7 linked regions of the Homo sapiens genome follow. Changing the gene in region 3 together with the main gene of any one other region gives a genetic interaction. Each region holds a gene or a part of one and is shown on either strand. Other genes may lie near its edges. The genes, in order: GEMIN2, GPN3, POLR3B, CTNNBL1, GET3, NUBP1 and DUT.

Region 1 (3,075 bases), on a different chromosome or scaffold from region 3:
AAATTACAAAAATTAGCCGGGCATGATGGCAGGTGCCTGTAAGCCCAGCTACTTGGGAGGCTGAGGGGGGAGAATTGCTTGAACCCAGGAGGTGAAGGTTGTAGTGAGCCGAGATGGTGCCATTGCACTCCAGCCTGGGCAACAGAGCGAGACTCTGTCTCAAAACAAAACAACAAAAAAAGTTTTCAAATAAATTCCAAGAAGAATTTCTATGTAAGAAATGAAATAAAACAGATACTAAATAAAAATATGCCACAACTGAAAATGAACGCAGGACACAGGCAATTAAACAAAAATGCAGGCTGAATGCAGTGGCTTTACACCTGTAATCCCTGCACTTTCGGAGGCTTAGGTGGGAGGATCGCTTGAGCCCAGGAGTTTTGAGACCAGCCTGGGCAACATAGTGAGACCCTGTCTCTACGAACAATTTTTTTTAATTAGCCAGGTGTGGTGGTGCTTGGTTGTGGTCCTAGCTACTCAGGAGGCTGAGGTGGGAGGATTGCTGGAGCCCAGGAAGTTAAAGCTCTAGTGAGCTGTGATTGCGCCACTGCACCCTAACTATAGCAACAGAGTGAGACTCAAAAAAAAACCAACCAAACAAAAACCAAATGTAATAAATACGATCTAACCTCACTGACCTCACTGATAAATAATAAAGAAGCCAAGGATTAACTATACCTGCTAACCAAGCAGATTAATAAATTCAAAGCAGGAACCCTCTCATCATCTTTGCTATCCTAAAAAAAAAAAAAGAAAAATTTAAATATTGTCTGTTCCTATTACTTTTGAAATAAATTTTCTATTAAGATGTAAAACACGAAACATGAAAACTTTATTATATGACAGTAATCATCATGTGGAAATAGGAGCCCTCAAAGAAAAAGCAGAGAACTGTAGAGTTAATGATTCCTTGAGAAACATCTAAGACTATCTTTTAAATAAAGATTCTGAATAGGGAAAAAAAAATAAAGAGGGATCTAAGGGGGATAACTTGGGGGAAATTTTTCCCTGGTTCCTACTAAAGGAACAATAAGAATCCTGTGTCTTAACTGTACAGTGATGAATATATATATATATATTCATATATATTATATATGTGTCTTAACTGTAGTGAATATGTATTCATATATAATAAATATATATTAATATACATATATGAATAAATATATTTATCACTGTAGTCAAGACACAGGATTCTTATTGTTCCTCTATATAATGCATACAATATATGTGAGGATATATATAGAATATATATGAATATATATAATATATATTAATCACTGTACAGTCAAGACACAGGATTCTTACTGTTCTTATATATATTCATTACTGAATTATATAAAGATATATATATAAAGATATATATATATACACACACACACACACACATATATATACACACACACACACACACACACACACCAGGTGCAGTAGCTCATGCCTGTAATCCCAGCACTTTGGGAGGCTGAGGCAGGTGGATCACTTGAAGTCAGCAGTTTGAGACCAGTCTGGCCAACATGGTGAAACCCTGTCTCTACTAAAAATACAAAAATTAGCCAGGCATGGTGGCGGGCACCTGTAATCTCAGCTACTCTGGAGGCTAAGGCAGGAGAATTGCTTGAACCTGGGAAGCGGAGGTTGCAGTGAGCCGAGACCGCACCATTGCACTCCAGCCTCGGTGACAGAGCGAGACTCCATCTCACAATAAAAGAAAAAAAAAAAAAAAAAAAAAAGGCTGAAGCTACAGCAGCCATCTTGGATCATAAGATGAGCATGAGGATGAAAGCCACATATGACAAAACTCAAAGGTGTGGGTGGGTTACTGCCATCTTAGTAAAAATCTAATTTTTTTACCTACTTCTTTTTTGAGACAGAGTCTTGCTCTGTTGCCCAGGCAGGAGTGCAGTGGTGCAATCTCAGCTCACTGCAACCTCCGCCTCCTGGGTTCGAACGATTCTCCTGCCTCAGCCTCCTGAGTAGCTGGGATGACAAGCACCCACCACCACACCCAGCTAAATTTTGTATTTTTAGTAGAGACGGGGTTTCACCATGTGGGCCAGGTTGGTCTCAAACTCCTGACCTCAGGTGAGCCACCCGCCTCAGCCTCCCAAAGTGCTGGGATTATAGGTGTGAGCCACCACGCCCGGCTCAGACTTCTTTATCTCAGAAAACATTTCCATATTATTTAAGCTACTATTATTTTGGGCTTTACAAATCTAATTGCCACCAATAAAATATTCCATGTGTTTTCCTATTTCACTGAACTCCTTCTTTACCACCATATAAATTGGTGGGTGCTTTTAATTTTAAACAGTAAGTTGCAACTTACCACTAAGAGCCTCACTTCAGAGCACCTTCTTGCAAGCTGCCGAATCAGTGAATGAGCCTCAGGTAACAAAGGCTTTTCAAGACAAGCCAATAAAGCATAAAGCCATCTTCCCTAAAAAAAAATTCAAAAAATTAATATTTAGACAAATACTGAACCAGAAGTTTATTTTTTAAATGTCCAATGTTATGCCTGATTATCTGCTATGAATAAATTCATAGAACATTTAACTATATTATGTTTGGGTATAGACAAGAAAGCCTCATTTGGAGAGCCAGGTGTTATCTCTTGTATCCTATAATTACAGACACAGGACATTGGATACCTCAAAATATTCCCTGATCTCCAAAGAGTTTGTTTCAGATATTCTTATGATAGGAAGTTCTCATTTGTAAGCAGAACACTACATTAAGATGAATATAAATACTGGAAAAAATTAAGATACATTTTTTTCTTTGTTCTGTATGGACAGATATAGAAATCATTTTATAATTGTATAATTTTGTCCTCTGGGGACATACAAAGAAACTATACTACAGATGAAATAATCTTTTGACACTTTTATAAATACTTTGACAGGCTCAATGTATCCCCACTCCCTTTTAAAATGGGGTTTTCAGCTACAAAATGAATACATATTTGATGCAGAAAAACTGTGAAGAATACCACAAGCACAAGAAAAAACCTGCAGTCCCAACATTCCAGATCAAACTTTGATTCACTTTAAAAATGTTCTTGTTTTTCCTATT
Region 2 (3,500 bases), 4.0 Mb from region 3:
CACTACCTGTTGCTTTAACCTCTCATGCCTTGTGACATTACAGAGCACCTACTGTGCCACCATGGTCCAGCACTGTGAAGCCCTCAACCGGTCTGTCCAAGTTGTAAACCTGGATCCAGCAGCAGAACACTTCAACTACTCCGTGATGGCTGGTAAGTCCTGAGCAAAGGCTCCCCCCACCTTCAGGAACAGTAAGGGCTGGGGAGGCAGTGAGTACTAGCTGCTTAGCACTGATACTTATTATAGTCTGGATCCCTGGTGTTATGGTAAATAGCATGAGCTTGTCATTTGGTCACATCTGTTCATGGTGATATGTGTGACAGTATCCTTTCTTGGTCTTTGATGTAAGATTTAAAAGTAAATGGGGCCGGGCGCGGAGGCTCATGCCTGTAATTCCAGCACTTTGGGAGGCCGAGGCGGGTGGATCACGAGGTCAGGAATTTGAGACCAGCCTGACCAACATGGTGAAACCCTGTCTCTACTAAAAACACAAAAAAATCAGCTGGGTGTGGTGGCATGTGACTGTAATCCCAGCTACTCAGGAGGCTGAGAAAGGAGAATCGCTTGAACCCAGGAGACAGAGGTTGCAGTGAGCCGAGATTGCGCCACTGCACTCCAGCCTGGGCAACAGAGCGAGACTCCATCTCAAAAAAAAAAAAAAAAAAAGTAAATGGACACTTCCCTCAGCACCCTTTCATTCTGTCCCTTTTGTCCTTAGTCCTGCTGTAGTGAATCATGTGGTATATTGCTGATCACTATAAGTCAGGAGCCTGGGTTTGTTTTTTTTAATTCTTTCAATTTGTTCATTCAAGTGTCTGTTGAACACCTGTTTTACGCCAGACACCGGAGTTATAGCAGAGAATAATACAGACATTATCCCTGCCCACACCAACCCTTTAGGAAATAGGCAATAAACAACATGATGAACATGTTACAGAATGTGATGACTGCAGACAGGCTCATGAGAAGTACTCATTGAGGTTGCTTTAGCTAGAATTGTCAGGGAGAATGGTGACTCTGAGGAGGGGATCTTTGAGCCTAGACCTGAAGGATGGTAATATGCTCCTCAGGCTGAGGAAAGTCCTTCCAAAATGAGGGAACATTTAGATCAATAAATATGCCAAGCTGGGTGCAGGGACATGTGCCTGTAGTCCCAGCTACTTGGGAGGCTGATGTGGGAGGATCACTTGAGCCCAGGAGTTCAAGTCCAGCCTGGGCAACATTGCAAGATCCATCTCTGAAAAATAAAATAAATAAATAAATAGCCTGGAGGTGAGAAAGGATTTGGTATTCTCCAGGAAAGCTAAGATGTCAGTGAGCTAAAGCGTAATGTCTGAAAGAAAGAAGTGGGTAGGGGCTAACAGGACATGATAAGATGGGATTTTATCCTGTTGTCAGTGGGGTGCCACTAGAGGGTTTTAAGAAGAGGAAAGGATTGACATTTGATACACGTTTTGGGGTTTTTTTTTTTTTTTGAGACAGGGTCCAGCTCTGTCGCCCAGGCTGGAGTGCAGTGACACAACCTCTGCCTCCTGAGCTCAAGCCATCCTCCCATCTCAGCCTCCCAAGTAGCTGGGACTACAGATGCGTGCCACCATGCCTGGCTAATTTTTATACTTTTTTTTTTTTTTTTTTTTTTTTTTTTTTTTTTGTAGAGACAGGGTTTCACCATGCTGCCCAGGCTGGTCTCAAACTCCTGAGCTCAAGCAATCTGCTGGCCTCAGTCTCCCAAAGTGTTGGGATTAGAGGCGTGAGCCACTGCATCCGGCCTTTTTTTGTTTTTGTTGTTGTTGTCGTTTTGTTTTTGAGACAAGGTCTCACTCTGTCACCCAGGCTATATAGTATAGTAGCCTGATCACAGCTCATTGCAGTCTCAACCTCCTGGACTCAAGCAATCCTCCTACCTCCCAAGTAGCTGGGACTACAGGCACACACTATCATGCCTGGGTAATTTTTGTATTTTTTGTAGAGGCGGGGTTTCTCCATGTTGCCCAGGCTGGTCTCATTGCCCAGGCTGGTCTCGATTTCCAGGCTGGTCTCAAACTCCTGGGCTCAAGTGACTCACCCAGCTTGACTTCCGAAAGTGCTGGGATAATAGGCATGAGCCACCGCACTTGGCCTGATTTATGTTTTAAAAAATAACTCAGGTGCTCAGATGAAAAATGGACTCTAGTGGGTTGAGAGTAGAAGTACAACCTGCATGGCTGGGCATGGTGGCTCACGCCTGTAATCCCAGCACTTTGGGAGGCCGAGGCAGGCGGATCACAAGGTCAGGAGATCAAGACCATCTTGGCTAACACAGTGAAACCCCGTCTCTACTAAAAATACAAAAAACTAGCCGGGCATGGTGGCGGGCGCCTGTGGTCCCAGCTACTGGGGAGGCTGAGGCAGGAGAATGGCGTGCACCCGGGAGGCGGAGCTTGCGGTGAGCCGAGATCGCGCCACTGAACTCCAGCCTGGGCAACAGAGCGAGACTCCGTCTCAAAAAAAAAAAAATACAAAATTAGCTGGGTGTGGTGACACATGCCTGTAATCCCAGCTACTCTGGAGGCTGAGACAGGGGAATCGCTTGAACCCGGGAGGCAGAGGTTCTGGTGAGCCGAGATCGTACCATTGCACTCCAGCCTGGGCAACAAGAGCAAAACTCCATTTTAAAATTAAAAAAAGAAGTACAACCTGCACTGCCGCTGTTGTAGTTAGCCAGGTGTACACCAGGACTAGGGTGGTCACGGTGGAGATGTAAGGAAGCAGACAGATTCAATATATTTTGCAAGTTGAATTAACAGCATTTTGTGGGGGATTGAACCAAGAAGGCATAGCAAAGTAAGGAATCAAGGGTGAGGTCTTACAGCTTTGTTCAGTGTATGATATAATTTCCTGTGGAGGGAGACAGGTCGTTTTAGGTTTGGGGACGTTCTCTTTGCACTCACTAAGTGCAAAGGGAAACTTCTGATTTCTGTTAATGAGTGAGCAGGTTGCGGGGAGGCAGATTGAAGGGAGAGGAGGAGATGTGAAATGCTTTTCTTTGAGAAAAAAGGCATTGTATTACTTTGGAACCATTTGGCTGCAGCAAACAGAAACCACTCTAAGCTAGCTTAGTTAAAAAGAGGACTTAGGATGGGCGCTATGACTGACACCTGTAATCCCAGTACTTTGGGAGGCCAAAGCAGATGGATGGCCTGAACCCAGGAGTTCAAGACCAGCCTGGGAAGCATGGTGAAACCCCATCTCTACAAGTCAATACAAAGATTAGCCTGGCATGCTGGCGGGTGCCTTTATTCCCAGCCACTCAGGAGGCTGAGGTGGGAGGATCACTTGAGCCTACGAGGTCAAGGTTGCAGTGAGCCATGATTATGCCACTGCACTCCAGCCTGGGCAGCAGAGTGAGACCCTGTCTAAAAAGAAAGAAAGCCAGATTGATTGTCCCAATTTGGATCAGTTATCTGTTATTGATTGCTGAGGGAGGGGGTAGGAAGGTGTTGTCAGTATAAATGTGACTG
Region 3 (3,500 bases):
ACAATCATTTTCTTCATTCACATCTAAATATTCAACCAGACTCTCATGTAAGAAATCTTCAAAATTCCTGGGAAAATATTGGTGAAAGAGACATCATTAAAAAGCATTTTTCTGCAGTATTTTATATAATAACAGGAGATACTGGCTTTCGTTTAGGCCCAAAGCACCTTTCTCTCCCAGAGAATATCATTACATTGGGATACCTGAAACATGTTATTCTTAGCTCACACAGTAACCACAAACTGCTGAAATAAAAACAGCAAAGTGTCTGTCTGTAACTCTTGTGAACCTAGTCCCCACTTCTTAAAAAAAAAATTCTGACCTTAGAAACCTCATAATGAGACCCACAGTGTCTACACTGACACATGATGTAAGTCCTTTTCTTACCAGAAACACTTACTTGTGTACTAACTGACATCAAGACTAGGTAACCCTCATGATCTAAATTGATGAATATTTTACAATGTCCAAGCAAGTTCACATGGAGCAAAATAGGTTTTTAACAGGCTGGTAATTTGGTGGAAAGAAATTAAAACACTAAAATGAAAATACACTTTTCTTAAATCATGTATGTGGGTATTAAGGAGATTGGTAAGTTTTACTTTTGGCTACTTACCTGTACCCTTGGGCCAGCTCTTCCATATGTTTATTTGTGACTGCTGGCTTCTGTTTCTTGACAATTATGTAGGGTCTAGAATGGAAACAGCAAACCAAATTAATAATAGTTCCAGGGAAAAATTACACAGGCAAGTTAGTTTACCAAAGTGAGATGAGGGAAGATGTAAATACAAACAAACCTATTCCTGGATTGCTGAGGACACCAGGTAATTTTTGTATGGATGAGCATGGTGTAGGGGACTATGCTCTCTCTCACATACACACACATACATACCCAAGCCCATGTGTACATGTGAGTATGTGTGGACATATTCATGCACACACACAGTGCTTCCTGCAAGTATCTTAGGAAACATTTGGTTTTGAATGAAAAGGCAACACAAAAATGATACTCAAAGTCTGAAAAGGAAACAAAACCTTTAATGCCATATTTTAAAAAACGGTGTAATGTATCAATCTAAAAACTTCCCGATTTCACATTGGAAAATTTTGCATACTACTCATGGAGTTAACAGGCAAAGAAGCACTGTCACCTAGGGTAATAACGGCGTTGTGTTGTGAGGTTCTGATGAATATCCAGATGTTTAGAGTAGTTTGATTTAGTCTAAACATCACTGAGCTAGGTTAGCAAGATACTTAAAGCTACACATTACCAAAGAGAGTGGCTAAAAGTTGGCAGAGAATGAAGCTTTCTTACTTTGTGGTTTTCAGTGACGTAATGGGTGGAAGGTGGAGAAGGCATTCTGGCAGATTAACCTGTAACTGTCAGTGGGGACTTGCCTCGGAGGGCTTTGCCACCATGAGGAAACCCGGACACAAAGGATGGCATGCGGCACTGAAACGTCAAGGGCTGTTGCTATTTGGATAAGCAGCTCTTACAGAGAGGAGCAAGTAACCACCAGACACTTGTGCGCTCTACCCTAAAGTCCAAATAACTATTTGAGGACTAATGAGCACTTTTCAACAGTTAAGAAGAGGAGCTGCACAATTACAAAAGGGGAACACAAGTTGTTGAAAAATGAACTGGGTGAGCTTTTCATGGAAATCCACAGTACCTCGAAATTCTGGCTCCTTCTTGGTAGGGAAGCAGAGCCTACTAATGCCTCATTTGAGCGCTGCAGTGGATTCAGGTTAAGCCTCAGATGAGAAGACAGAAACCGGCGGAGGAGAGGGAGGGGATCACATTTAGCTGCCTCAGTTATCCTTACGTTACTCAACGCATTCTACTATTTTTTCCTGCTAGATCTGTTATGCCATTATAAAGTTGCTTCTATAAAAGAGTTTTATTTTTGAATATATATTATGTTGGATGTAATGAAATCCTAAAAAAGAGTAACCTAGAAAATGTCACTGTTATTCCTGCCCTTAACTGGACCATGCTATTAAGTTATAAATAAGCACCTAATGTGTGCCTGGCACCCTACTGAGCACTTACCACACCTTCTATCAACTAGTTCTCAGGACAATCTTAGGCAGGCATTATTGTTTCCATTTTACAGCCAAGGAAACCAAGGCTGAGAGACTGAAGTAGTATACTCAGAGTCACACAACTCAGTAAGTGGGAAGTTAGGATTCAAACACAGGTATATCATCAGCTAACCATTCTTCGGTTGCAAAGAAGAGAAACCAATTCTGGCTAATTTAAGCAAAAATGAAGTTTACTGGAAGCATTAAGAATTTACAGGTGCTGGGTGCGATGGCTCACACCTGTAATCCCAGCACTTTGGGAGGCTGAGGTGGGTGGATCACTTGAGGCCAGGAGTTCGAGACCAGCCTGGCCAACACAGTGAAACCCCATCACTACTAATAATACAAAAAATTAGCCAGGGGCAGTGGTGTGTGCCTGTAATCCCAGCTACTGGGTCAGGGACGGGGGTGGGGAGCTGAGACATGAGAATCGCTTGAACCTGGGAGGCGGAGGCTGCAGTGACTCAAGATCGTACCACTGCACTGCAGCCTGGGTGACAAAGTGAGACTCTGTCTCAAAAAAAAAAAAATAATTTAATGGAAGGATAAGAATCAAAGAAAAAGGTGAAATGCTCAGCCTCAGAAAGAAAAGGAACGAGAGCAGTTCCAAGAATCCAGAAAATGAGGTTTAACAGGCAGTCTCTTGCATGTAGCACTGGGAGAATGAATCAAGTCCAACCACCTCCCTCCCTTGATTTATTTTACCTGGGATTCAAATTCTCTGATGAGGGGGTCTGACTGACCTCATTTGGGTCATATGCCCAACCCCTGGCTGAAGAGAAGAGGGTGCTGGACTGACCATCCCAAGAAGCCTGCCAATGGGGACAGGCAGTCCTCAAAAGAAAATGAGGTAGTGTCATATGAAGGAGGAAAGGATGCTGGAGGAAAGAAAGCATGCAGTCACTCTCCCAGCTCTGACAGACTTCCAGCTACTGCTGGCTCACTGCCTTGTGCTTCAACACTACCCGAGGTATACACAGAATAACTACGGTAATGCTAGAAAAGGCTTGTGACACAAGGCAATGTCCTCAGCTGATGTCTCTGCATAGCCCCTCAAACCAGACACCATGTCACATTCGTCTCTGTACCTCCGGCTCCTAGATAGTACCTGTGCACAATAGGCCCTTAATAAATACTTACTGAATGAATAAAAGGAACCTACTTTTCCATTGGATCTAGTGTTATTTTATTTCTTCATGCCTCCATGTTTTCATTCTTGCCTTTTTTCAGCCTTTCTCCTCCCCACCTACCTCCAAGTTAACACAATCCTACTCCTCCTTTAAAGCTCAGTTTGTAGCAACAGACTATAGTGGGCAAAATCATGCGTCAAACGAATCCTAAGGACTTTCAAATAAAAAACAGATTCCACCACTCTTTAGCTTTCAGTAAGTTACTTAGCCTCACTGAACCTCAGT
Region 4 (3,500 bases), on a different chromosome or scaffold from region 3:
CAGGGCCAAGGTGCCTCTAGAAGTTCTCCAGCAAGCCCAGGATGCGCTTTTGCTCGTTCTCCCGGAACTCCGGGCTCCGGCCGTCCCCGATGTTCTCTGCATACTCTAGGGGGACAAAGATAGAGTCAGGAGTGGATCCCAGGCATGGCATCCACCGTGGCTGCGTCGCTTCATACCTTTCCCAGAACCCCAGCTCCCACAGAGGTGCAAGTCGCCCTAATGCCCCCACTGTAGCCAAATTCCTTGGGGTCTTGCCTTTGAGGCCTCAGTGGAAAGGTCCCAACTTACCTTTCCATGCTTGGATTCCCCTCCTAGCCACACCCTTCACTTCCGCCCTCATGTATTTATTCACTCAACACACATGGCGTGGATGCTACTAAGGTCTGAATGTTTGTGTCCCCTCCAAAACTCATGCTGAAACCTCATCCTCAACGCATCGAAGGCCTTTATGGGGTGATTAGGTTCTTACCATCTAATTATAAGATTAGATTAGGTCTAGATTAGGTCTAATCTAGGGGGATTAGACCCTTGCAAAAGGACTGCAGGGAACTCTCAAGACCCTTTGCCCTTCCCCCTTCTGCAATGTGAGGATGCAATAGGACGGCCCTCAGCAGACACCAAAGGTTGGGGCAGTGCTCTTGGACCCCCCGCCTCCAGAATTGTGAGGAAGTACATTTCTGTTCTTCATAAATTACCCAGTCTCAGGGATTTTGTTACAGCAGCACGAACAGACTAAGACAGACACCAGCTGGGCAGGCACTGCTCTGGGTGAGTGGTTCTGAGTGTGGACCCGAGCAGCAGCAGCAGCAGCAGCACTGCATGGAAACTTACTAGAAACACAAATTCTTGGGACCACCCTAGACCCACTTAACAGGAAACGGGTGGGGCCCAGTGATCTGGGATTTATTGAGTCTCCAGGTGATGCTGATGTATGCTCCAGTTTGAGAACCTTTTTTTGGGAATGGGAATAAAGCAGTGATAGAAACAGATGCAAATTTCTGCTTGTGTGGAGCCTACTTTCTAGTGAGGGTCACAAACCAAAAAGTGAACAAAATACACAGGTGGCTGTCAGCAGGGAGTATCTGCTTAAAGATCAGAAGGAGATGAGTGTGGAAAGGTCTAGGAGCGAGTGGCAGGGCAGCCAGGGCAGAGGATCTAAGGGGAGGCACTTCTTTGGTTTATCTGAGGGTCAGCGAAGAGGTCAGCGTGGCCACAGCCTGGAGCCACGGGAGGGGCCATACCCAGATGGTGTGGGTCTGTGCACCACGGTAAGGGCTGTGGCCTTTCTGTGCGGTGGGTCCTGAGCAGAAAGGAATGACGTGATTTGACTTTTGCCAGATCCCTCTCAATGCTGTGTGGGGGACACCATGGGGGAAGCAAAGGCAGGGAAAGGAGATGCGACGTGACAGTGGCCTGGATTGGGCAGGTAGCGGTGGAGGTGAGGCGACGTCTTCAGCTTCTTGATGTTTTCTGAGGGTGGCTCCAATAGGATTTACAGATAGACCGGAAATGGGGTGTGAGAAAGAGATATGGATGTTGCAATCACCAAGAAATATGACAAGAGCATTGGGGAGGCTGACAGTGAGCCCAGAATCCCCGCAAGGACTGGGGGCACAGGTGCTGGTGCCAACAACAGGGAGGGGCTGTCGGGGGGTGCAGTCCCCCGACACAAACTTCGACAGCTGGGTGTATTCGGGGAAGGGAGGGAGAGAGAATAGTCTAGAAGTACTGGAGCATGGAAGACCCCTCCTATGTCTCCAGTGGCAGGAGGGGTGTAGGAGCACCAGGTTTCAGTGAGACCAGGAAGAGAAAGGAAATATTCCTGAGGAGGGTGAGGCTCTGGGCACAGTTCTGGCAACAGATCAGCAGAGGATGCCATCAGAGAGTGTCATGGTGGGCAGGCTTGTGTTCTTGTCTCCCCTGTTGTCCCAGCACAGTGATCCTTAAGACGCCATTTCTTTTTTTTTAGTGTCCTCGTCCCCCAAAATAACATGGTCACCCTGTTTTTTTTTTTTTTTAGGAGATGGCGAGGGATGATTTGGTGACTCTGGACTTCCTGCGGTGGCTCCTAGAGCAAGTGTAGGGGATCTGGTGGGAGGGGAAGGGGGAGGATGGGGTGGTCCAACCCTTCACTGCCCTCTGACTGTCCCCTGCCCACAGCCAGAGAGGAAAAGGCAATCAAATCCTAGCTCTGACTCACAACTGTGCCCTTGGGTGGTCCCCTCTGAAAATGTTCAAATAACAAACGTCCAGGGAACATTAGTTCCCTCCCTCAGCCTCCTTTGCTCAGGCCAGTAATGGCACTGGGGAAGTCCCACACCTCCTCCGGGTCCCCTCCTGAGATGTCTTCTCTGTGAAAGCCTGCCTGGTCACCTCTCACTCCCACACCCGGCCCCAGGCCACTGCCTCCAGCACATGTGGGCCTGACTGCTAGACCATCCTCCACCCAGCCCCTCTCTCCCTAGACAGAGAGCTGCATGAAGGCAGGGGCTTTCGCCTTCCTCCCAGCTAAGCCTGGCCGAGGGCCCCCCAGCAGAGTGTCGTGCTGAAGGATCTCCTGCAGTGGGTGACTAGGATGGCTGCCTGCACTTCTGCCCCCTGGTCCCTTACTGGGGCCTGGCTTGAGAAAGAAAATGGAGAGAACTCTCTAGTAAGAGGCTTTTGCATAATAAAACACCTGCTGATCCAAACCAGACAAAGACTGGGGAGACAAAGCATGTGACCTCTCACCCCTCCCCTGTCAGCCCCACCCCTGCCAATGCTGGGGAAGTAATTTTGCTCCTGCTACCTCTTTATTTTGCCCCGTTCCTCTTTATTACTTTGGTCGTGTGCCAGAAAATGGGATGTGGGATTCAGGCATGTGCCAGCTGTGTGTCTACCCCCAGAAATCCTCTTCTGTTAGGCCCATCCATCACCTCCAACAGCAAGTGGTTGTGATGCCTCCTATTAAGGCCCCTTAGAGAGAGGGCCAGGGTGATGGAGACAGGAACTGAGCTTTGGCAGAAGGCTCTGGGGCTGTGTGTAAGTGGTATCTCTTACTCACATGTGAATGATATAGTTGCTGCCCCAGGAGAGAGAGAAATGACCATTATGGCATCTAATATCCCCGGAGGCATGGTCTGGAAGCAGGAGTCTTAATGGATTGAGCTAACACTTTGCTCTCCTAATGTCTTCTCAGACCCAGGAGAGAGGGAAGTGGAGAAACAGTCCGATGCTGTGGGGCAGTGATTTTCCAACAGTAAAGCCGGCTTCCCTGAGTTCTTTCTAGGGATGTACGAAGCAGAGGGAACCCACACCTGCATCAATCCCTTTGCCGAATCACCTGTGCCGAGGCCTCGCTTACATATGCCGACGGTACACAGAGCACCCATCCTATGCGCAAGTCTCCTGTGTCACTCCAACTGTGCTAAGAAGCAAACAGTCACATCACCCATTCTCTGGAAAGGGGATATCCGACTGGCCCACAGGCAGTGAATGGCTTAGTGTCCCCTGGAAGAGGG
Region 5 (3,500 bases), on a different chromosome or scaffold from region 3:
GTGTGTGTCAATCTTGCACTTGGCCAGCTCCTGGATCAGCCTCTCTGTCTCATACAGGGACAGGAACTCAGCAATGCATACGCAGATGAAAGTTGTCTGCTCCTACAGGGCACGAGAGAGGACAGTGAGGGGCGGGGTCTGCCCCTGTCCTCAGCCCCCGGGCCTCTCACCGCCAGCCAGACCACCACTCACAGGGTCCTTGAACTGTTCGCTGACTGAGCGGATGACGGGCAGCGTCTCCTCCAGCTTGGAGGCCAGCTGGTCTGCGTTCATGTCCCCCAGGCCCAGCATGTTGCACATCTGCAGGGGGGATGTGGGAGGGCTCATAGCTTACCTGCGGCGACCTCCTGGGTTGGGGGTTCACTAAACACCCGAGGGATGACTCCTGATACCTCCCAGTGGTTAAAGGCTCAGGCCCATAAGCAGATTCCTGGGGTTGGTCAAATACTAGCTTTTCCATTTCTTTCTTTCTTTTTTTTTTTTTTTTGAAATGGAGTCTCACTCTGTTGCCCAGGCTGGAGTACAATGGCGTGATTTTGGCTCACTGCAACCGCCGCCTCCTGGGTTCAAGCGATTCTCCTGCCTCAGCCTCTTGAGTAGCTGGGATTACAGGCGCGCACCACCATGCCCGGCTAATTTTTGTATTTTTAGTACTGGTGGGGTTTCACCATTTTGGCCAGGCTGGTCTTGAACTCCTGACCTCAGGCAATCCACCTGCCTCGGCCTTGCGAAGTCCTAGGATTACAGGCATGAGCCACTGCGGCCGGCCTCAGCTTTGCCATTTTTAGGGAACCATAGCTAAGGGGCTTGACCCTCCTGGAGCCTCAGTTTCCCCATCTCTAAACTTTACCTCCCAGATCTGTTGTACCAGATGAGCTGAAGCATATAATGTGCTGAGAATAGTGTCTGGCACACAGTAAGTGCTCAGTGTTACCACCTGAGGCACAGGTCCCCACAGGGGACACGCACACACCCACACGTGCACATACACCATGGTGGGTGGTGCTGGTGGTGTGCAGCACTGTGGGGGCTTTAGGGTTGTCATCGTAATAATAACCCATGGGGGCTGGGCACAGTGGCTCATGCCTGTAATCCCAGCACTCTGGGAGGTCGAAGTGGGTGTACTGCTTGAGGCCAGGAGTTCAAGACCAGCCTGGGCAACATGGCAAAACCCTATCTCTACAAAAAGTACAAAAATTAGCTGGGCATGGTGGTACATGTCTGTAGTCCCAGCTACTTGGGAGGTAGAGGCACGAGAATCACTTGAACCCACGAGGTGGAGGTTGCAATGAGCCAAGATCGCACCACTGCACTCCAGCCTGGGTGACAGAGCGAGACTCCGTCTCGAATAATAATAATAATAACCCATGGGGCACTCTCATGATCTCCATTTGCAAGACAAGGAAGGTGAGGCCCAGAGAGGTGAAGTGATTTGCTTGAGGTCACACAGCAGTTGGGTCACATGGTGAGTGTAGAGGGTTTGAAGGCAGGTTGCCTGGTTCTGGAATGTGCTTTCTGGCTCTGTCTAGGGTATTTAGCGGGCAGGGGCAGGGACACTGAGTCCTGCCTGTGGGGGAGGAAAGACAGCTCCGTCCCATCCCCTCCAGGGAGAAGTCCAGAGTGAGAAGGGGTGGGAAGGAAAGGGAATTGTTAGTGCGCATTTGAGGGTCTGGGGGCCCGGGCCTACTCCCACTCCCGGCTGCCTGGATGGTGCAGGTGGGGGCCCCCGCCGCCTGCCTGTGAGATGAAAGGGCTGATCTGGTTCTTGATCTGCATAAGCCGGCCCAGGCCCCGCTCCACGATGGTGGGGAAGTTGAGCAGCCTCAGGGTGTGGCCCGTGGGTGCCGTGTCAAATACCACCACCGAGAAGTTCATGCCCTTCACCAGCCTGAGGGGAGACAGGGGTCAGGCCCTCTGTGTCCGCTCTTCCCCTTCCCCAGGCAGCCCCCACCCCTGCTGGCTGGGCCTGACCTCATGACCTCGGCATAGCTCATGGCCTCATCGATGCCGGGAAATGCGCTCATGGCCTCCTGCATCATCTTCTTGCCCATGCTCAGCATGTTGTCCTCCTCGAAGAACTCGTCAGGCAGCTCCGCCACGCCCAGGCTGGGGTCAATCTCCTGGGGGCCAAAGGGATGAGACTGAGGTTGCTGCTACTGCTGGGGGAGCCTTCCCACCTGGGCACAGGGCCAGGGGGAGCCTTCCTACCCGGGCACAGGGCCAGAGGGAGCCTGTGGTGGGCTGTGACCACAGGCATTTCATTAGGTCACGGCTGGGGGGACCCTGAGGTAGTACTTAGGGTTTTGTATGGTTGCATAAAGGGTCAAAAACAAGGGGAAAATTGCAAGCTGTGCCCAGGGCCCTCAAAGGGAAGCTGAAACCCACTGCGGGCCATTTACACTGCTACTCCCCACTTGCAACCTGCCACTTGCAACCCCAGATACTCCCATGACTGGGCCATGACCTCTTCCGGATCATCATCCCTCCACTGAGAGACTCCCTGACCACCCTAAGTAACAGCACAGATCCACCGACACCCCTGCCCTGCCTTCCTTTCTCCTTAAGGTTTAGCCCTTAGGAGCTGGGCAGGATAGCTCACGCCTGTAGTCCCAGGTACTCAGGAGAATGAGATGGGAGGATCGCTTGAGCCCAGGAGTTGGACACCAGCCTGGGCAATATAGCAAGACCTATCTGAAAAAAAAATTAGCCCTTCCTCACATCCCTCATGATTCCCTTATCATGTTTATCATCTGTCTCCATAGCAGGAATGTCTGCCCCTCAGGGGCAGGGGTTTTACCATCTAGTTCACTGCTGTGTCCTTAGCGCTTAGCATGAACAGTGCCTGGCACAGAGGTCGTCAGCACATATGGGGAATCCAGCCAGGCGCGGTACCTCATGCCTGTAATTCCAGCCCTTTGGGAAGCGGAGGCGGGCAGATCACCTGAGGTCGGGAGCTTGAGGCCAGCCTGGCCAACATGGTGAAACCCCGTCTCTACTAAAAATACAAAAATTAGCCATGCATAGTGGCGGGTGCCTATAATCCCAGCTACTCTGGAGGTTGAGGCAGGGGAATCGCTTGAACCCGGGAGGCAGAGGTTACAGTGAGCCGAGATCACGCCATTACACTCCAGCCTGGGTGACAGAGGGAGACTCTGTCTCAAAAAACAAACAACAAAACAAAACACAAACATGTATGTAGAATCTATGAAGGGATGGCCATGGCTGGGGTCCCTGGCCAGTCTCAGACTCAATGCCTCCCTCTTTTTTTTTTTTTTTTCCCGAGATGGAGTTTTGATCTTGTTGCCTAGGCTGGAGTGCAGTGGCGCGATCTCAGCTCATCACAACCTCCACCTTCTGGGTTCAAGCAATTCTCCTGCCTCAGCCTCCCGAGTAGCTGAGACTATAGGCATGCCCCACCATGCCTGGCTAATTTTTTTTTTTTTTTTTTTTTTTGAGATGGAGTCTTGGCCGGGCGTGGTGGCTCACGCCTGTAATCCCAG
Region 6 (3,500 bases), on a different chromosome or scaffold from region 3:
GGCTTATTTGGGTCAGAGAGGTGAGATCAACAGGAGGTTGATCTGGTACTGAGACTTAAGGTAATAATGTGAAAGTGTTATCAGGGCAAGCTTTAGCCTCAGCACTATTGATATTTTGAGCCAGATAAGTCTTTGTTGGGGGGAGGAGTAGACCGTGTTCTACACCATAGGGTGTTAAACAGTGTCCCTGGCCTTTACCCACAAGATGCCAGTAGCACCCCCTACTCTATTTGTGACAACCCAAAATGTCTCCAGACATTGCAATTCACTCCCAGTTGAGAGCCACTGACTTACAGCATAGACCAAAGGCACAAAAAGATCAGATCATGCTTCTCCGTGAGCTGGGCACAGTGGCACGCACTTATAGTCCTAGTTACTTGGGAGGCTGAGGTGGGAGGATTGCTTGAGCCTCAGAGTTAAGAGCCAACCTGGGCAACATAGCAAGACCCCATCCTTTAAAAAAAAAAGAGGGAGTTGAAAGTACAGAAAAGAAAGGAAAAGTAAGCATCCCCTGTGGATTCCTCTTTCTAGGCATGATCAAGCAGTTCCTCCGAGATGTGGACTGGGGAGAGGTCGACTACCTCATTGTGGACACCCCACCTGGGACGTCGGATGAACACCTCTCGGTCGTCCGGTACCTGGCCACAGCACACATCGATGGAGCAGTGATCATCACCACTCCCCAGGTGAGCGAGCTGCCAGCTGGAGCTGGGTCCAAACTGTGCTCCACACTGTGAGATTTCTTTCCTACCTGGCTCTGATACTCTGGTCTCACCAAGGCTCTTCCCAGTGTGTGTTCCGCAGCTGCATCTGATGTGGGTCTGCAGAAACCTCGTGTTAAAAACTTCAGCCAGCACAGTGATTCACACCTGTAATCCCAGGACTTTGGGAGGCTGAGATGGGAGGATCACTTGAGCCCACGAGTTCGGGACCAGCCTGAAAAACATAGCAAAACCCCATCTCTACAAAAAATATTTTAAAATTAGCCAGGCATGGTGGCTCGCGCCTGTAGTTCCAGCTACTTGGGAGGCTGAGGTAGGAGGATCATTTGAGCCTGGGGAAAGGAGGTTGCAGTGAGCCATGATCACGCCAGTGCAGTCCAGCCAGCGCAAGCGAGTGAGGCCTTGTCCCAAAAGATAAAAATAAGAAAAACTTCATCTTTGGTCTAGACATTTGCAGCTGACAACCATTCAACGATTTGGTTTTTTTTTAGTCCATGGATTAAACAATAGTGGGTCAAGAATGCTTTTTGAACTTTCCTTGAGGAAACTAGGGAAACCACCAGTGCAGTTATAATTCATACTGTGCTGCCTGGCCCCGTCAGCCTTGCCGTGTCCATGTGTCAGGTCCCCCAGCCTACAGTGGATTTTCCGTTTACATCCCAGGATGATTTAGGAAATCTCTCCAGTTTTCAACAGAACCAGCTGGGTGCAGATAGGGATTTCGGGATAAGCCACTGGGTGCCTTCGCTTCTTCCGTAGTGACACCCAGCAACCCTCTGTAGCAGTCACCTAGTGGCTGTACTCCAAGGCCCATGGTGAGCCCGAGCTGAGAGGAGAGCGATAGGAAGTTTCCTCTCTGTAAGTCCTGCAGAGAGCAACTGCAGGCAGGACCATGGTGCTATCCATCTCAGGGGCCTGAGAAACTGAGGGCTCTTCTCCATCTCCACAGTTACGCCTGACTTCTCTTCATGACGTTCTCCTCCACACTTAAGAAAGCCCAGCAAAGGAGGTTTGATTTGATCTCACTGGCCAGAATCAGTCAGGACGACCCATAGTCTCACCTCATCCAGCACTCACTGAGCTCTGACTCTGACATGCCGGGCACCAGGGCAGTAAAAAGGCCTGGCTCTCCCTGGTGGCCCCTGTGGCTCCCTGAGGAACACAGGTGCTGGACACAGGGATGAGGGTACAGCCAATGGAGTGGCAGGCCCAGCGGCCATGGGAAGGGTGTCCGGGTCAGAAAATGGTGCAAGATTCATGTCCACCCTGGCATCCTGCAGAGAGGGGACATGGGGACGCAAGGAGGAGCAGGACACCAGCTGGGACCCTGGACAGGAGGGAGGATGGCCTGGCCCGGGTGATGGCAGTGGAGAGAAAGTGTATTTGTCCTTAGGAATGTTTTCTGTCCCATTTTTAAAAAGTGGTTGGTGCTGGGCACACTGGCTCATGTCTGTAATCCCAGCACTTTGGGAGGCCGAGGCAGGCAGATTACTTGAGGTCAGGAGTTCGAGACCAGACTGGCCAATATGGCAAAACCCTGTCTCTACCAAAAAAATACAAAAATTAGCCAGGCGTGGTGGTGGGCACCTGTAATCCCAGCTACTTGGGAGGCTGAGGTGGGAGAAGTGCTTGAATCCAGGAGACAGAGGTTGCAGTGAGCCGAGATCGCGCCACTGCACTCCAGCCTGGGCGACAGAGCAAGACTCTGTCTCAAAAAAAGAAAGAAAGAAATGAGAGACTGAGTCGCAGCCCATTGACTTTCTAGCTGAGCGCCCCTTCCTCCGCATCCCAGCCTCAGTGTCAAGAGCCAAACAGGCATCTCAGGAAAAGAACAGGCCCAAAGCTGCGAGCCTTTCGGGCTCACGTGAGTGGTGAAGCTCCAGGTGCTAAGGAGTCACTACACCTGACAGTGACAAGCCACAGCAGGACTTGGGTACAGGGATCTGTGATAACATTAACTGAGGAAAATAGGGAGCTACTGAGCGGTGTTTATACACAGTAATCACATTGGAAAAACTCAGAGTTGAGAAGGAAATGCAAAGTTGTCCACATTGGGCAGTATTCCTTATTTCCTTTTAGTCAGTTGTTTGTGTTTATAATTATCTAGAGCAGGGATTGGCAAACTTTTCTGTAAAGGGCCAGATAGGAAGTAGGCGTTGCGGACCCCACGGTCCCTGTCCCAGCCCCTTAGCCGTGCCACTGTGGCATGAAGCAGCCACAGACGGTGCCTAGAGGGACGGGCATGGCTGGTTCCGGAGGAACTTTATTTATAAAACCAGCCAGATTCAGCCCCCAGGCTGGGGTTTGCCAAGCTCTGGTCTAGAAAACAGTGCACACACTGGCTTAATATAGTATAGTATAGGGACATGGAGCATGTAGATGCGTTAAAAGGTCATTTTCAGATAGGCACAGTGGCTCACGCCTCTAACCCTAACACTCTGGGAGGCCGAGGCAGGAGGATCACTTCACACCAGAAGCTTAAGACCAGTCTGGGCAACAACCATCTCTATAAAAAATTAAAAAGTTAGCCAGGCAGAGTAGCACATGCCTGTAGTCCCAGCTACTCTGGAGGCTGAGGCAGGAGGATTGCCTGAGCCCAGGAGGTCAAGGCTGCAGTGAGCAATGATTATGCCACTGCACTCCAGACTGGGCAGCAGTGAGATCCTGTCTCTAAAAAAAAAAGTCATTTTCTTTTAGGTTGATTTCTTGCTATTTGGCTGTGTGGGAAGTAAATAGCACCTCGAACAAACAGGGCTTAGCACTAGTAGGTACTAAATA
Region 7 (3,500 bases), on a different chromosome or scaffold from region 3:
CACAATACCACCTATGGAGAAAGCTGTTGTGAAAACGGACATTCAGATAGCGCTCCCTTCTGGGTGTTATGGAAGAGTGGGTAAGTCATTTAAGAAACAGGTAACTATTTGTCAAGTTCTCCTTTGTGATAGATTCTTCATGTTTCATTTGGGGTAATAAGCAGGCAATATTGCTTGGGCTGTGTCCTAAAAGAAGCACCATTTGTGATAGCAAATGCACTCTTTGAAAGGCTTTATTTACATCTCTGCTTTGCCTCTTTTTGACCCTTTTATTTTTCTCCTTCCTCACTGGAGCTTTTAGGCTCACACTGGCCTAGAAGGCTGTTCTCAGAACATGGCATTTTATATTATGAGAGTAAAACTTCTGACCTGTTGGTCCCAGAATGTGTAAGCCTACTTAACCTTTTCTTGTTTGGCCATGGGGTTAGGGTAAGGGATACTCTTCAGTGTTGTAGAGGCACTGGGAGGAGCTAGGACAAAATGGAGTACACGTCAACAGGTTTGATTTTTCTGGAGCGGATCAGTTGTTACCAGACAGTTCTTTGCAAGAGCGTAAGTTCTTTTTGACTAACTTCAGAGTAAACATAAAGGAGGCAATGGAGCTGTGACGCCCTCCTCCAGGGAAAGGAGCTAGACTGGCACTATATTATTAGCCATGAGTGAGGAAACTGCCAGTACTTCAGCCCTTAAAAGATAACAAGATGGGCTCTCATCTCATCTCTTGAGCATCATTGACTCCATTTTTTAGAATTTTTTCAGGGGAAGGGGCAGGAGATGGAGTGAAATAAAGGTTAGTACAGAAAGAGGCAGCATTATTGACAAAGTGCCTGATTTAAATTATTCTAAAATAAAATGCTGGAAGTTAGGATAATTAATTATAGGCCTGATGCTTGAGTCTGCAATAATAAGGTGTAACCTTAGCTTTTTATTTTTTTCATTTTTTAGGATTAAAAAGTATACTAGCATTGAATCATTGAGACTTAGTTTTTGGCATTTTTACTTAACTGATATTAGCCCATTTATCTTACTCTGGTTCATGTGTTTCCTACAGGCATGTCTTTTGGCATCTGAATCATGAATAGTGGGGTCCCAAGTTGTAGGCTATGGTCTGCTACTATTTGGTTAGGTTTGTTTCCCTCTCCCTTCCTCTTCCTTTCCCTTCCCATCTGCATTGTACATGTTGTGGTGTCCCATCTTAAAACCAAAGTCTTCTTCCTCAGTAGTGTGTTCCTGCTGGCCATACTTCTCTTTCTTCCCCTTTGAGGCTTAACTTCTTGAAAGAGCAGCCTACAGTTGTTCCCGCTTGCTCACCTTTCAGCTCATTCTAGCAGTCCTTCTCCCCTGTCTGCAGCACCACAAATTCTGACTGAAGTCACATGGGAGTGGTTTAAGTTAGTTTTGAATTAAAACCTTGTGGAATTTTTCTAAACTAGTCTTTCCAACTTTGGTAATGCAGTATGATGAATATATATTCTTTAATTCAAAACCATGTGCTAAAGTTAAGATGAAGATATAGATATTATAGGTGAAGAGAATGACATGCTTAAATTGCATCAGTTATCTCTGATATAGCCCTTCCCCCTTAAAATAACCAATGTCTCCTTTTTTGTTTTTTAGCTCCACGGTCAGGCTTGGCTGCAAAACACTTTATTGATGTAGGAGGTAATATATTTCCTTTTTTATTCTGTAAATGTTTGCAAGTATTTACTTTGTCTTTAAAAGGTAATATTCAAATGACAGATTTTATTTTTAAGAAAAGAAAATGATTAGAGGAAAGCTTGTTATAATAGGAGGAAAAGCTTTGTGGTTATTTTAAGTAATTATATTTTGTTTAACTACTAACTTAATTTTTAAAATAATGATTACCTAATTAATAATGACAGATTTAATGATATAATAATTAAGTAATTATTTAAGCAACAAAAGTTCTAGAAAACACAGGTCTATCTTGTAAGAATTTTCTTCATAAGAGAGCTATCTGTCTTTAGCAAAATTTAAGAAGAAAATCTTTCCCTGAAGTCAGGAGAGAAAACACTTTTCTCTAAATTTGTTAAGACAGTCCTCTGTGTTACCTGTTTCCCTTATAATAAAGCCTTTCTCATGTTTGTCTCAAAGTTAACCCTACCTCATGTGGTACCTTTCATGAAGAACCCTCAGTGTCCTCTGCTAACTACTCTTGATACAGAGCTACTCCTCTTATTGTAAGGAAATTTCTACTTTCCTGATGTGGTTTCCTTGTTTCAGGTCCGCTCCAACTGGGATTCAGACCCCACTTATGTGGTCCTTACATACTGACCCTTTATCCCATCAGTAGTGAATCTTTCACTTAACAAGATACCTTGGCCCCCACATAAGTAGGTGTGCTAGATCTCCTCCTCCACCCGTTTTTACAGAGCTGCTTTATGGAGGCTTGTTAACAGATCAGGAAAACTGGCTTAGAAATGAGCCCACATGGATATGTGGTAAAAACTGGAGTCTCTGTGTGATTCCAGCCTCCTTGTTCTTTCCACTGCAATTAATTGTGGAGATTACCCTGCTGCATCCCCCTCACCAACTAAACACGTCCAGAATTAGCTCACTTTTATGTGCCACTGCAAGGGCTAACTAAGCACTTAATGAAACCTGGCTATCCTAGACCTGCCCCTTAGTCTAACATTTGGTGGGTGTGGTGTCTCTCCATAGTGTCACCAGGTGGTGCTGTGGGACAAGACAGGACCCCAAAAGTACACCCTTTAGGGACTAAAGGGGAGCTGAGTTTTACATAGCAGGGTGGACATTGACAGCCCACTCTTGGGTTGAGGATTCCTTGGGCTCTGTAAGTTATGCCCGATGTTCAAAAATGCTTTTACAAGGTCAACTGTGGTCATTTTGGGACAGTAACTTAAGGATATAAATAATTGTATATATTTTCAATGAAGTTTCAAATGATTGTTCAAGGAACGGGAGCTTTGGAATAACAACTGGATGTAGGTCCCAGCTCTGTCATTAACTAGTTATTACTTAACCTTTCTGAGCCTGTTTCCTCATTTTACAATGGAAATTAGTGTGCCTGCCTCTAGAGGTAGGAGGATTAAATGATAATGTGTATGAAATACCTAATATAGTACTTGGCACATATTAGATTCTGTGAGATATAATTTCTGTCCTTAGGGACTTCACAGATTGTTTTTATGTGGAAACTTTTTCTTTTATTCGACTTTGTTACTAATTTTTGCTCTGTTTAAAACAACTTTCTGGAAAAAAATTCATGTAAAAGAATGGAAAGTTAGTTTGCCTAGTGGTTGGTATGGTGTTATTCATAAAATCACATTGTGGTGTGTTCTTGGATGCAGAGAATCTTAACAATCTCCCTTAGGCACAAGTTTATCATAGTTGGCAACAGTTTTTATTTCTGAAGAGAGATGTTGTTAGAAATCCCAGGCTCTAAATAAGGGTCAAAGGGAAAAGTTGAGCATTCAGGATTCTGTTCAGAATTCACATCTGGTAGGTGTGGATAGTTT

What was found.
Region 1: changes in POLR3B (region 3) and GEMIN2 together harm fitness less than expected from each alone (positive genetic interaction), as found in Homo sapiens cells (one large-scale study listed by BioGRID).
Region 2: changes in POLR3B (region 3) and GPN3 together harm fitness more than expected from each alone (negative genetic interaction), as found in Homo sapiens cells (one large-scale study listed by BioGRID).
Region 4: changes in POLR3B (region 3) and CTNNBL1 together harm fitness more than expected from each alone (negative genetic interaction), as found in Homo sapiens cells (one large-scale study listed by BioGRID).
Region 5: changes in POLR3B (region 3) and GET3 together harm fitness more than expected from each alone (negative genetic interaction), as found in Homo sapiens cells (one large-scale study listed by BioGRID).
Region 6: changes in POLR3B (region 3) and NUBP1 together harm fitness less than expected from each alone (positive genetic interaction), as found in Homo sapiens cells (one large-scale study listed by BioGRID).
Region 7: changes in POLR3B (region 3) and DUT together harm fitness more than expected from each alone (negative genetic interaction), as found in Homo sapiens cells (one large-scale study listed by BioGRID).

Annotation. Positions count from the first base shown.
Region 1 is NC_000014.9:39,131,323-39,134,397, reverse strand, and holds part of GEMIN2 (gem-associated protein 2), read right to left. Parts: intron 2,441-3,075; coding exon 2,330-2,440; intron 738-2,329; coding exon 679-737; intron 1-678. UniProt on the Homo sapiens protein: The SMN complex catalyzes the assembly of small nuclear ribonucleoproteins (snRNPs), the building blocks of the spliceosome, and thereby plays an important role in the splicing of cellular pre-mRNAs.
Region 2 is NC_000012.12:110,461,758-110,465,257, reverse strand, and holds part of GPN3 (GPN-loop GTPase 3), read left to right. Parts: intron 1-43; coding exon 44-152; intron 153-3,500. UniProt on the Homo sapiens protein: Small GTPase required for proper localization of RNA polymerase II (RNAPII). May act at an RNAP assembly step prior to nuclear import.
Region 3 is NC_000012.12:106,434,248-106,437,747, reverse strand, and holds part of POLR3B (DNA-directed RNA polymerase III subunit RPC2), read right to left. Parts: intron 692-3,500; coding exon 617-691; intron 68-616; coding exon 1-67. UniProt on the Homo sapiens protein: Catalytic core component of RNA polymerase III (Pol III), a DNA-dependent RNA polymerase which synthesizes small non-coding RNAs using the four ribonucleoside triphosphates as substrates.
Region 4 is NC_000020.11:37,868,530-37,872,029, reverse strand, and holds part of CTNNBL1 (beta-catenin-like protein 1), read right to left. Parts: intron 106-3,500; coding exon 17-105; 3' UTR 1-16. UniProt on the Homo sapiens protein: Component of the PRP19-CDC5L complex that forms an integral part of the spliceosome and is required for activating pre-mRNA splicing.
Region 5 is NC_000019.10:12,743,997-12,747,496, reverse strand, and holds part of GET3 (ATPase GET3), read right to left. Parts: intron 2,121-3,500; coding exon 1,972-2,120; intron 1,889-1,971; coding exon 1,738-1,888; intron 301-1,737; coding exon 193-300; intron 103-192; coding exon 1-102.
Region 6 is NC_000016.10:10,757,342-10,760,841, forward strand, and holds part of NUBP1 (cytosolic Fe-S cluster assembly factor NUBP1), read left to right. Parts: exon of another isoform or gene 1-531; coding exon 532-686; exon of another isoform or gene 687-936; intron 937-3,500. UniProt on the Homo sapiens protein: Component of the cytosolic iron-sulfur (Fe/S) protein assembly (CIA) machinery. Required for maturation of extramitochondrial Fe-S proteins.
Region 7 is NC_000015.10:48,334,429-48,337,928, forward strand, and holds part of DUT (deoxyuridine 5'-triphosphate nucleotidohydrolase, mitochondrial isoform 1 precursor), read left to right. Parts: coding exon 1-80; intron 81-1,617; coding exon 1,618-1,662; intron 1,663-3,500. UniProt on the Homo sapiens protein: Catalyzes the cleavage of 2'-deoxyuridine 5'-triphosphate (dUTP) into 2'-deoxyuridine 5'-monophosphate (dUMP) and inorganic pyrophosphate and through its action efficiently prevents uracil misincorporation into DNA and at the same time provides dUMP, the substrate for de novo thymidylate biosynthesis.